Linked DNA regions of Homo sapiens. The protein of the gene in region 1 interacts with the protein of each later gene in a pairwise test. Each region holds a gene or a part of one and is shown in the gene's direction. Other genes may lie near its edges.

Region 1 (7,028 bases):
CAACGTCAGAAAATGGCAGCCCAAACAGAAAGATTGAATAAGATCCAGGTTCTCATAAAGTAAGGCAAAAATGTCCAGGTTTCAAGTGAAAATCATTCATCATACCAAGAACTAGAAAGATTTCAAATTGAATGAACAATAATAATCAATATACGCCTGCACTAAGATGATGATGTTAAAATTATCTAACAAATATTTTACAGCAGACACAGTAAAAATGCTTCAATGAGAAATTGTGAACACCCTTGAAACAAGTGAAACAAAGTGTCAGCAAAGAGAAGGACAACATAAAAGAAGAACCAAATGGAAATTGGAAATTGTAGAACTAAGAACAGCAGCAGCCAAAATATAAAGCTCAGTGGATGGGCTTAATAGAAAAATAAGAGGACAGAGAAAGAAATCTATGAGCTGAAAGACAGAACAATAGAAATCCAGACCACAGAGAAGAAATAGAGTGGGTCTTCGGCTGGGTGCTGTGGCTCACACCTGTAATCCCAGCACTTTGGGAGGCCGAGGTGAGCGGATCACAAGGTCAGGAGATCGAGACCATCCTGGCTAACACGGTGAAACCCCATCTCTACTGAAAAAAAAAAATACACAAAAAATTAGCCGGGCTTGGTGGCACACGCCTATAGTCCCAGCTACCCGGGAGGCTGAGGCAGGAGAATCCCTTGAACCTAGGAGGCAGAGGTTGCAGTGAGCCGAGATCGTGCCACTCCAGCCTGGGCAACAGAGCGGGACTCTGTCTCAAAAAAATAAAAAGAATGGGGTTTAAAATAGAGCTTCAGGGACCTATGAGACGATAACAAATGATATAACATTCGTTTCATTGAAATCCCTGAAACAGAGAAAGATGACAGCCTGAAAAAGTGCTTGAAGAAATAATGGCTAAAAAATTTCCTGAATTTGGCAAGAGACATAAACATACAGAATCAAGAAACTGAGTAAACCCCAAATAGCATAAACGCAAAGAAATCTATGCCAGAGACATATGATTAGACTTCTAAAAATGAAAGACAGAATTCTCTAAAGCAGTCAGAGAAAGATGACACTTCACCAGTATGGGAAAAAGAATTTGGATGACTGAATTTCTCATCAGAAACCAGAAAGACCAGAAGAAAGGGACACAATTATTTTTCTTCAAGTGCTCAGAGAAAACCGTCAAGCTAGAATCCTGTACCCAGTGAATATATCTTTCAGGAATGAAGAAGTAATCAAAACATTCTCAGATGAAGAAAAACTAAGAATTTATCACCAAATACAATAGGCTTTCCTTCTTCTTTAGAGTTTTCTGAATTACGTTTGATAGCAGAAGCAAAAATCTTAGCAATATCTGATGTGGTTCAAAATGTACATAAAGGACATATTTAAGATAATTATAGAAAGGCAAAGGTAAAGGAACATAATAGGAGATGAGGTCTGTGCTTCACTGGAACTGGCAAAGTGACAACAACACAGGCTGACACGATGGCTCACACCTATAATCCCCCTGCTTTGGGAGGCCAAGGCAGGAGGATTGCTTGAGGACAGGAGTTCCCAGCCTGGGCAACATAGCAAGATCTCATCTCTAAAAAATTTTTTTTAATTAGCCGACATGGCAGTGCGTGCCTGTAGTCCCAGCTACTCAGGAGGCTGAGGGGGAAGGATCACTCGAGCCCAGAAGTTCGAGGCTGCAGTGAGCTATGATCACACCATTGCACTCCAGCCTGGGCAACAGAGCAAGACCCTGTCTCTTTAAAAAAAAAAAAAAAAAAAAGACAATATTGGCCAGGCACGGTGGCTCACGCCTGTTATCCCAGCACTTTGGGAGGCCAAGGCCGGTGGATCACCTGAGGTCAGGAGTTTGAGACCAGCCTGACCAACATTGAGAAACCCCATCTCTACTAAAAATATAAAATGAGCCGGGTGTGGTGGCGCATGCCTATAATCCCAGCTACTTGGGAGGCTGAGGCAGGAGAATCGCTTGAACCCGGGAGGCAGAGGTTGTGGTGACCCGAGATCGCACCACTGCACGCCAGCCTGGGCAACAAGAGCAAAACTCCGTCTGAAAAAAAAAAAAAAGACAACATTAGCTGGGCGTGGTGGCTCACATTTCTAATCCTAGCACTGTGGGAGGTCAAGGCAGGTAGATTGCTTGAGGCCAGGAGTTCAAGACCAGCCTGAGCAACATGGTGAAATCCTGTTTCTACAAAAAAAAAAAAAAATGGCTGGATGTGGTGGCACGGGCCTGTAGTCTCAGCTATGTGGGAGGCTGAGATAGATGGTAGGATTGCTTGAGCCCAGGACAGACCTCTAGCAAGACTGACCAAAAAAACAGAGAAGTTATAACATCAGGAATGAAACAAGGAGTACCACTCCAGGCCCTGCAGCCATCAAAAGGATAATGAGGGAATGCCACAAACAGCTCTACACATAGGAAGTTGACAACTTAGATGAAACTGACCACTTCCTCAAAAAACACAAACTACCACAACTCACTTGATATAAAATAGATCATTTGAATAGCTCTATAACCATTAGGAAATTGAACTTACAGCTTTAAAACTCCCCAAAGAGAAGTCTTCAGGCCCGGTGGTTTCATTAGAGAATTCTATCGAAGAATTCTTTGTTTAAAGAAGAATTAACATTTCTATACAGTCTCTTCCAGAAAATAAAGAGGAAGGACAACTTCCCAGTTCATTTTATGAAGCTAGTATTATCCTGACACTAAAACCAGATAAAGACAGTACAAAAAAAATCCTTTACAGACCAACATCCTCATGAATTTTGATGCAAAAAATATTTAACAAAATGTTTACAAATAGAATTCAGCAATACATAGAAAGAATTATACACTGCTGGGTGTGGTGGTTCACGCGTGTAATCCCAGCACTTTGGGAGGCTGAGGCAGGGGATCAGGATCACTTGAGCCCAGGAGTTCAAGACCAGGCTGGGCACCATAGTGAGACCCCTCTACAAAAAATAAAAAAATTAACTGGGCATGGTGGTACATGCCTATAATCCCAGCTACTCAGGAGGCTGAGATAGGAGGATTGCTTGAGTGAGCGTGGGAGGTCAAGGCTGCATGAGCTATGATTACACCACTGCACTCCAGTTTGGGTGACAAAGTGAGACTCTGTCTCAAAAAAATAAAGAATGATACACTGTGACCAAGTGGCATTTATTCCACAGATGCAAGGCTGGTTCAATATTCAAAATGCGATCTAGAGCCGGGAGTGGTAGCTCATGCCTGCAATCCCAGAACTTTGGGAGGCCAAGGCGGGTAAATCACTTGAAGTCAGGAGTTCGGGCCCAGCCTGGCCAACATGGTGAAATCTCGCCTCTATTACAAATACAAAAATTAGCCAGGTGTGGTGGCAGACGCTTGTAATCCCAGCTACTTGGAAGGCTGAGGCACAAGAATCGATTGAACCTGGGTAACAGAGTTTGCATGAGCTGAGATGGCAGCACCACACTTCAGCCTAGGCAACAGAGCAAGACTCTATCTCAAAAAAAGAAAAGAAAAGAAAAAATGCAATCAAGGCAGGTCACAGTGGCTTATGCCTGTAATCTCCCAGTACTTTGGGATGCCAAGGCGAGAGGATCACTTGAGGCCAGGAGTTCAAGGCCAGCCTAGGTGAACTGCAAGACCCAGCTCTACAAAAATAAAAAAATTCAATCAATGTAATCTACCATATTAACAAGCTAATGAATAAAGAAGATAACATGATCATATTTGATGCAGCAGAAGCATTTGACAAAATTCAACCATTCATGTTAAAAACTCAGAATAATAGGATTAGTGGGGAACTTTCTCAACTTGAAAAAGAACATCTACATAAAACCTACAGCTGATATCATACTTAGTGGTGAAAGCCTGAATGTTTTACTCCTGTGGCTGGGGGAACAAAGCAGGGATGTCCACTGTCACCACACTTATCCAGCATAGTGCTGGAAGTTCTGGTCAGCGTAGTAAGGCAAGAAAAGGAAGCAAAAGGCATATAGATCAGAATGGAAGAGGTAAAATTGTTTCTAATCAGATCACACGATTGTCTATAAAGAAAATCCCAAGGAATGTACAAGAAAACTCCTAGAACTAATAAGTGAGGATAGCAAGGTTGCAGGACACAAGATAAACATGCAAAAATCTATCTTATTTTTATATAGTGGTAATGAACAGGTGGACAGTAACATTAAAAATATAATACCATTTACAATGAAACAAAATTACTCAGATATAAACTAGCAAAATATAAAGGACTTATATGCTGAAAATAATATAATGTGGATGAGAAGAAGATCTAAGCAGAGACACATGCCGTGTTCATAGATTGGAAGATTCTACATACCAAAGATGTCAAAGGTGGATATACAAGCCTAACAATTTCTATCAAAATCCCAGCAAGTAGATCAATGGAGGAGAATAGACCCAAACAGAAATAGGCCCATATGAGTTACGGGTGCAGATACAACCGCAGGAGACGCAAATCAGTTCAGCAGATGAAAGTTAGCCTTTCAACAGATCGTGCCAAGGCAGTTAGACATCCATAGGCAAAAGATGAACCTTGACCCAAGTCTTACACCAAGCTTGTCCAACCTGCGGCCTGCAGGCTGCATGCGGCCCAGGACAGGTTTGAATGTAGCCCAACACAAATGCATAAACTTTCTTAAAACATTGATTTTTTTTTTTTTTGCGATTTTTTTTTTTTTTAAAGCTCATCAGCTATCATTAGTGTATTTTATATGTGGCCCAAGACAATTCTTCCAGTGTGGCCTAGGGAAGCCAAAGCATTAGACACCCCTGTCTTACACCTCATAAAATAGTGTCTCAAAATAGATCTTGAAATTAAATGTAAAACATAAAGCAATAAAACCGTTTAAAAATAGAAAATCTTCAAGTTCTAGGACTAGGCAAAGAGTTCTTAGACTTGACACCAAAAGCATCCATAAAAGGAAAAATTGATAAATTAGACTTCATCAGAATTTAAAGCTTTTGCTCTGGGAAGGACCATATTAAGAGGATGGGAAGATAAGCTAAATCTAGGAAAAAATATTTTCAAATGACATATCTGACAAAGAAATGGTATCTAGAATATATAAAGAACTCACAAAACTCAACAGCAAAAATAATATAAAAAATTCAATCTGAAAATAGGGAAAAAATATAAACAGACATTTCACCAAAGAGGAGACCCAGGTAATAAGCACAGGAAAAGATGTTCAACAGCATTAGTTATTGGGGGAATGCAAATTAAAACCACCAGATATCACTAACACCTATCAGAATGGCTAAAATAAGAATAGAGACACCACCAAATGCTGGTGAGGGTGCAGAGAAAATATCTATTGGTAAACAAGCAATAGCCGAGTCCAGAGGTTTAAGAAAACTTTGTTCAGGCAAACTTAAGAAATTAATGGGCCGGGCGCAGTGGCTTACACCTGTGATCCCAGCACTTTGGGAGGCCGAGGTGGCTGGATCACGAGGTCAGGAGTTCGAGACCAGCCTGACCAACATGGTGAAACCCTGTCTTTACAAAAATTAGCTGGGCATGGCGGCACATGCCTGTAATCCCAGATACTCAGGAAGCTGAGGCAGGAGAATCACTTGAACCCGGCAGGTGGAGGATGCAGTGAGTCGAGATCCACTGCACTCCAGCCTGGGCAACAGAACGAGACCCCATCTAAAAAAAAATTAAGAAATTAATTATTAAGTTAATTTTTTTTTCCTGAAAATAGGGTAATGAGTTCTGTTTTTCGGTTTGTTAGGTCAGAGTATGCAAGCCATTGTCTTTAGGGGTCTCTTGCCCATCTCCTGTGTGTGTGCACACCCACACGCGCTTGCACACATACACACACACACACACCCCTCTTGTTTGCTGATGCCTGAAATGTTGAGAACAAAGGGTTCTCCCCTGTTCCATACTATACTGATTTGGCAGTGAGGACTAAAGAGAGCTGTGCCTTGGGGCCTACAGGAGGCAGAGTGCTTGCTTTGGGTAGGAAAAGGGTCCAGATAGAACTGTCACAGTGAACACCCAACACATCACCCACAGTGGGCCTCGTTGACCTTCACTGGGCCAGGGCAAGTGAAAACTTGGCAGGGGAGGTTTCTGGGGCCTGCAGCTGCCATTGAGATAGCCACATGGCGCGTGCTTAGGAAAGATGTAGCGTGAGTTTGATTTTATTTTAACACAATGACTTTCATGGAGACAGGATTCCTTCCTGAGACATTTGTTTATTCTTGCTTAATCCCTTGTTTCTTACAGGACAGAGAACACCCCAATGATTGCTGGCCTTGGGAAGGTGAGCCCTGGTGAGCTTGAGGAGATGAGTTGATTGCTTTGTCATCAGTGTCCCCAGCGGCTCTAGTAGGAATCTGGGGCTTTAGGGAGATCATATTCGTGATCTCATAAGCGGACTGACAAGAAAAAGCCTGGAATCTGATTTATCAACCTGGAGAGCTGTACTTTTTCAGATCTGTGGATTAGTGGCACTTGTTTAGCATTTAAAAGGGAAAAACTCCTTGTCTGTGTCTCTTCTGACATGAGAAACAGTGATACTGTTACAGCAGAGGTGAAGTGTCAAGCTGCAGGTTCACCATTCCCAAAGGCGTCGGCAGCCCCCGCACCATCGACGTTCTGTCCCCGATTGGTCTGTGGGGTGGCCAATCCAGCACCTGCCACCAGCCCTCCACTGGGGCCTGTCCTGCTTCTGCGACAGTAACCAGGCTCAGGTTTTGCCGTGCGAAGGCAGAGGTACTGGTTACACCTCGGCGTCTGCAGGCTGCTCCCTCACTGTGCGGCCTCTGGTCAAAGGCCACCACCTTCAAGCAACCCTCCATGAACCACAGCTACATTGGTTCCCCCATGTCCCCTGCTGTCACCCTCTATCCCTGACACTGCTTTATTTCCCCTATCTGATGTTTCTCTGTAGTGTGTTCAGATGTATGCCCCACCTTCTGCTTCCCCGAGAGCAGGGGCTTGGCCATGTCGGCCTCAGTATCCCCAGTACAGAGAAAGGGCTTAGCGCCCAGGAGGCCGGGCCTTGGG
Region 2 (7,028 bases), on another chromosome or scaffold:
GTCTAAGATGACATGCAAATGTATTATATACCTCAAACAGCATTACTATTAGCACAATTAATTGGCTTTAAAACTACCATTGAACAGTGACATATTTGGGGATTTCAGTCAGTAAAACAAATCGATTGTTTCTTATGTCACACTATATAATCTATGGTGTCTTTACCTTTCATCAAAAGTTGTTTTTTTATCAAGAACTTGACAGTGGGAGCCAGGCACGGTGGCTCACACCTGTAATCCTAGCACTTTGGGAGGGCTGATTGCTTGAGTCCAGGAGTTCAAGACCACCCTGGGCTTTCCACCATGGAAACCCTGTCTCTACAAAAAAATACAAAAAAATTAACAGGACATGGTGGCGTGCACCTGTAGTACCAGCTACTCGGGAGGCTGAGATGGGAGAGTCACTTGAGCCTGGAAGGCAGAGGTTGCAGTGAGCTGAGATTGCACCACTGCACTCCAGCCTGGGTGACAGAGCAAGACCCTGACTCAAAAAGCAAATAAATAAAAAAATCAAAAGAGACAATTAAAACTTATAATAAAAAAGAACTTGGCAGTGTAAGTCCTTCTTAGCCAACTAGAAAATTAATTTCTTTTTTTATGACTAATTTATTACCTGATTCAACCTTTAATTTTTTACTAAAAAAAGCTAACCAGTAATATTACATTGATACTTTTAACCTATCTTGATTGATATTAATTACCTTTTTTAATGTGTTTGTTTTGCTTATCTAGAAAAACACACCTTGACTTTAGTCAGATACATCACTGTCTGTTAAAGGAAACCAAGCGTGAAGTGGAAGTCTAACACATGAGGATACAGAATTGATTCAAAATGGGAACAACAAGTGATGAGATGGTGTCTGTGGAACAGACCTCCTCCTCTTCTCTAAACCCCCTGTGTTTTGAATGTGGCCAACAGCACTGGACAAGAGAAAACCATTTGTACAATTACCAGAATGAAGTGGATGATGACCTAGTCTGCCATATTTGCCTTCAACCTCTGCTGCAGCCACTAGACACACCCTGTGGACATACATTCTGCTACAAGTGCCTCAGAAACTTTTTACAAGAGAAAGATTTCTGTCCGTTGGACCGGAAAAGACTTCATTTTAAGTTGTGCAAGAAGTCTAGTATTCTAGTTCATAAACTCCTAGACAAATTATTAGTTTTATGTCCATTTTCTTCAGTGTGCAAAGATGTAATGCAACGTTGTGATCTGGAGGCACATCTCAAAAACAGGTAAGCAAAAAATATAAAAGAAGTAACTCCAGATTTTGGAAAAAGGTGGTTCAAATGAACATAAAAACTTGATTAAAACAAAACAAACCAGAGCACTAGTAAGTAAATGGGTGAATCAAGTACAGAAGAGATACAATAAATAAGTTGTATGGAACAGTATTTAACATTATTTATCAAAAACATGAATACAAAAACTACAGTGAGGAAGTACTGTTTTATACCTGTTAATATTTCTGCTGCTGTAATATGAAACTGATATATTCAAATAGATGACAGGATATTATGATAGATTCTTTCTATAAAGCAGTTTGGCAGTTTGTTTTTAAAAACTATATGAATGTAAATCTCCTTTTATCTAGTTTATTATCCTAAGGAAATAATCTAAAAGCAGGAAAAATTGTATGTAAATATGTTCAGTGCAACATTGTGCATAGTTTGGTAAATTGGAATCAGTTATTTAAAAGTAGGGAAGGGTTAAAAAATACTATGCACATAAACTCAGTGGGATATTATGCAGCCAATAAAAACGATAATTTTGTTGCAATATGGAAATAAATACATTATTTTATTTGCTAAGATCTTGTAAAGATTCTGGGTTCAGGGACTAGACTGAACAAGAATTAGGAGTTGGAAAACTAAATATTTAGTGGGGATTTCTGTTCTCATAAAAGCTTTTTAAAAGGTTAAGTAATTTATTTAGCTGATGAGTTTTATAATTTGATTTTGCTAAAAGACTTGATCTTTAACTTAGGAAGAGTTACAGTATACGTCATTTGTGTAGAATCACATAAAATGGCAGAAATAAATACTGGTTTCTAATTTCAAGTTAAGCCAGTTTTACAGTATAAATCTGCAGTAATCTCGATTGCTGTGAAAAACAATGCATACTACATCATACTGGACTTAGATGTAAGAGTGTAAGTCTGATATAGAATGGCTTGCTATTATACTCACACATAAAATCATAGACTTGAAGGAGATTATCTAATCCCCCTCATTTTATGAATAAGGAGACTGAGTCACAAAAATTTAGTTAATGCTGTAGTTAGACTCAAGCTTTACTGTTCTTGTTTACTATTCTAATAAACCATGTTGACTCTATCGTAGGTCAAGTCATGTTCTCTGCTGCTATGTAGCAAAAGTTTCATTCATGTGCACATGAAATACACATTCATTTTGTATCAATATATTGTTGATATTTATTTCTAAACATCAGAGTTAAGACATGAGAAACAATGAAAAAAACAAAGATGTTATTAAAATGTTGGAAACATTTAGATTTATAGAATGCTTAACTCTAAACTGTGTTGTCTAGAACTAGGAGGTAAGATAGAGTAGGATAGACAGACTTTTGAAAATGCGTGTAATAATGTAGCATTGCATTTTTTTATATCTTCTGTAACCAGCAAGCATAGAATCTGAACATGATGGCAGAGGCCTCCTGGAAACTGACACTGGTCTTTTGAATATACTAGTCTGAGTCAGGACTAGTTATGGCTGAAGAATATTTCAGGCTGCTTCTTTCAGTAGAACTGTTCTTTTCAGTGTATAGGCTTCTTTTCTAAACATCAGTTATGAGATGTTAGAGGAACTGAATGAAATGTCAGTTCAGTTATTTATGATTTTGAGAGCTGAAAGATAACAGTTTCACAGATTTTCAGGAATATTCCTTTAACATGCATTCAAGAATTTAATTTGCAGTTGAACTATTACTAGTGTTTCTTATCAAACCATTTATAATGAGAATGTAAAAAACCTTGGTAATTGCAAACTGCCTTTTCATTTACATGTTGGTAAAGGCTTATCCAGTTGAAGGTTTCATTTTCCAGCTGTGCTTATTAGTATTGAAGTAACCAATTTTATCATTTCTAAAGTATCTTAGGCCTGTAACATGAAAGATACAGTGAAAAGATGGATGATTGGAAAAGGTGGTGATTTGCCTGATACAGACAGCTAAGAGTGATTACTGAGTATATAAATGTAAAAAAATTATAAAATGTAATATGATTTTTATATGCCATTTGAACAGATAGTGATGAACAGCCTGACCTTTCTCTGTTCTCTTAAATAAGAACATTGAAATTCAGGTAGAAATGTATATTATACAACATTCAACCCTAAATAATATAGTTCATTTGTTTATTCAGCAAATATTGATTATCTGCTATGTGCCAGATACTTTTCTAGGTGTTAGGTAGTCTCTGCAAGTTAGAATCTAATGCCGGGTTGTAGATTCCTTTAGAAACAGAACCATGTCTTTATAGTCTTTCAGTTTATTTGCCCAAAGTTGACAGTCATCTCATGTTAGTCCAATTAAATTGTTGATCTGTGTTTCAGTTATTCATTGCTGAGAAACTAACCACCCCAGACACACTGACATAAAACAACAAGCATTTGTTGATTCTGTGAGTCAGGATGCAGACAGGATGAAACAGGGATGGCTTGTCTCTGCTATCTTTATGTGTGCCACAGCTGGGAAGGAGCTGAAAGCCAGGGACTGCAACAGTTGTAACTGGAGAGTCTACTTCCAAGATGGTTTCTTCATTCACATTTCTGACACCTTGATGGGAATGACTAGGTGCGTGGGACTTGTCAGCTGGAGAGGCTACAGGTAGCCTTCCCAGCATGACAGCCTCAGGGTATTTAAAGTTCTTACATAAGTGGTTCAGTGTCTAGTAGGCTGCATGGCCTCATATGATCTAGCCTTGAAGTTGCCTGGCATCCCTTCTCTGTTGGAAGCAGTCATAAACCCACCCATATCCAAGGAAAAGGGGACATAGGTTTCACCTTGTGATGGGAAGTCAAAAAAATTTGCAGCCATGTTCTAAAACCAACATAAACTAGCAAGAAGAATGATGTTATGCGGCGCAGAATATGATTACTACGACTGTTTGCGGCTTCTCGGTATACAAATCTCACTTGTTTGTTAGAAATTGGTAAGTCTGTAAGTTTCATTGAAATTCATAAGATTTTAGCATCAGCAACAAAGAGTCATTGTATAAAAGTTGCATGGCTGTCATGTGCCTTTGCTCTTGAGCTTTTAGGGTTTACAGGAATCTCTTAATTATTGGTAGAAATAGAGCATTAGCAGTAGTTTGCATAAATTTGATAATTTCACATTTAAGATCACCTTCCTATTTGAATGAAATCCTGCCCTTAACAAATGTGTTTTGATTTGAGAAGAGCAAACATTTTTCTCCTACAGATAAAATATTTATGAAAGATGAACATGTTTAAATAAAACTGCTATTTTTAACTGATTATGTATTAGTGAAATGAAGAATTTTAAGAGACATGGACAGTCTCTATCTTTGAACAGAGAAATAAAGCCTTTGAAAAATATTCTACATGTTGTACTAAATATGTAACATTTTGATTGTTTCTTTGAAATTCTGCCAAGCAACATCAGCTATATAGCATTCCTCCTACGCTCTACCACTCATCTCCAACCCACCCTTAACGATTTAACATTTAAGCCTTTGGTAATTGTAAGTGCTAGTTGTTGTTGTTGTTTTTAAATTGTGTGTTTGTGCCCTAGTTTATGGCAAGGTTCAGAATTACTTTTCCTCTTAAAAATTACAGTTTAATGCCATTATAAAAAGTTTACAATAGAAAACCTTTAAAGAAGCCTCTTTCCTTGCTGAGAACTTTTCTTGTTCATGAGATGGTTATGAAACCTTAAGTTCAAGTTTGTTCAGCCTGTGCCACATGCAGCCCAGGAAGGCTTTTGGGATTATTTTTTTTTTAAGCTTATCAGCTATCATTGATGTTAGTGTATTTTATGTGTGGACCAAGACAATTATTCTTCTTCCCGTGTGGCCCAGGGAAGCCAAAAGATTGGACAACCCTGCTTTAGATGATGGTCCAGGAAAAACTAAATAGAAAAAAAAGGGATCAGGATAGGCTGAGGCATGATTGCACTTTTAAATTCACACTTTAACTTGGAGGGAAGTTTGTGTTTAGCACATTCTTATCAGTATTGTTTTTTCATGTATGGTGTGAAAAAGCAGATATATGTATTTGCAAATCATGTGTATTCTAGTATCCAGAATATATAAAGAACTCTTAGAAATGAAAAGATAAATCCAATTTTAAATGGGCAAAGGATTTGAATAGATAGTTCTCCAAAGATACTCAAGTGGCCAGTAAGCACATGACATGCTCAACATCATTAGTTCATTTTTATATTGGATTATTTGTCTTTTTGCTAAGTTGTAAGAATTTTCTATGTATTCTGGATACTAGACCCTTACCAGATATATGATTTGCATATATTTTCTCCCATTCTGTCAGTTGTCTTTTCACTTTCCTACATCCTTTAAAGAACAAATATCTAATTTTTATGAAGTTCATTGTTGTTTGCTTATGCTTTTGGTGTCATATCTAAGAAAACATTGCCCAATTCAAGGTCACAAAAATTTACATGTACGTTTTCTTCTAAGAGTTTTCTAGTTTTCTCTCTTATAATTCAGTTTTTGATCCATTTGGAATTAATTGCAATGAGAAATCATAATGTGTATTGTTCAATCCTTTAAATTTTATTGAGGCCTTTCTTTTCTTTTTTTTTTTCTGGAGATAGCATCTCGCTCTGTCACCCAGGCTAGAGTGAAGCAGTGCAATCTTGGCTCACTGCAGCCTCCACCTGCTGGGTTCAAGTGACTCTTGTGCCTCAGCATCCGAGTAGCTGGGACTACAGGCGCACTCCACCATGCCCAACTAATTTTTTTTTTTTTTGTGCTTTTAGTAGAGACGGGGTCTTGCCATATTGCACCAGGCTTGTCTCAAACTCCTGAGCTCAGGTGATCCTCCACCTAGGTCTCCCGAAGAGCTAGGATTACAGGCGTGAGCCACCATGCCCAGCCTTGAGGCCTTTTTTAAAATGGCCTAGCACATGGCCTGTCTTGGAAAATGTCCTGTGTGTACTTGGGAATAATGTAAATTCTGCTGTTAATGGATGGAGTGCTCCATATGTCTATTGGGTCTAATTGGTCTATAGTGTTAAAGGGTCTATTTTCTGGTTCCATGTCTAGTTGTTCTGTTAGTATTGAAAGTCGAGTATCAAAAGCTTTATTGTTGATTTGTCTATTTCTCTCTTTGTCATTTTTTACTTACGTATTTTGGGGCCATTGTTTGGTACAATTTCTGTTTATAATTGTCATATCTTGTTATGTTTTTCTGTCTTTTGCTTTATTTATGTCTTTGAATCTGAAGTGTGTCTGTTGTAGACAGTTGGATTATGTTTCTTGTAGCCCATTCTGCCAGTCACTGACTTTTTATTGGGATGTTTCATTCATGTAATTTAATGTAATTACTGATAAGGTAGGCTTTACATTTGCCATTTTGCTGTTTGTTTCTATATGTCTTATTTCTTTTTTCCTCCATTTCTTCCATTTGTGTTAAATATTTTTAATATGCTATTTTAATTCCCGTGTCATTTCTCTTAATTAAAATTATTTTCTTAGTGGTTACCCTGGGGCTTACAATTAACATCCTAGTTTATAGCAGTCTATTTTAAATGAATACCAGCTTCATTTTCACTAATGAATTAGTCAGGGATCTGTAAGGAAATAGAACCAATATATGAGGAGTTGGCTGACATGATTAAGGAGTCTGAAAAATTACACGTTCTGCTCTCTGCACGCTGGCAACCCAGGGAAGTCAGTAGCATAATTCAGACCTTCTCAGTCAGAAGGTCTGAGAACTAGGAGAGCCAGTGATCCCAGTCTGAGGGCAGGAGATGAGATGTCACAACTCAAGCAGTAAGGCAGGAAAATAAGGAATGAATTTCT

What was found. The genes of interacting proteins can lie anywhere in the genome.
Region 2: the proteins of SCLY (region 1) and LNX2 interact in binary tests that used the Homo sapiens proteins (3 or more experiments, as listed by UniProt).

The regions. Positions count from the first base shown.
Region 1 is NC_000002.12:238,084,973-238,092,000, forward strand, and holds part of SCLY (selenocysteine lyase), read left to right. Parts: intron 1-6,245; coding exon 6,246-6,282; intron 6,283-7,028. UniProt on the Homo sapiens protein: Catalyzes the decomposition of L-selenocysteine to L-alanine and elemental selenium.
Region 2 is NC_000013.11:27,575,508-27,582,535, reverse strand, and holds part of LNX2 (ligand of Numb protein X 2), read left to right. Parts: intron 1-732; 5' UTR 733-832; coding exon 833-1,239; intron 1,240-7,028.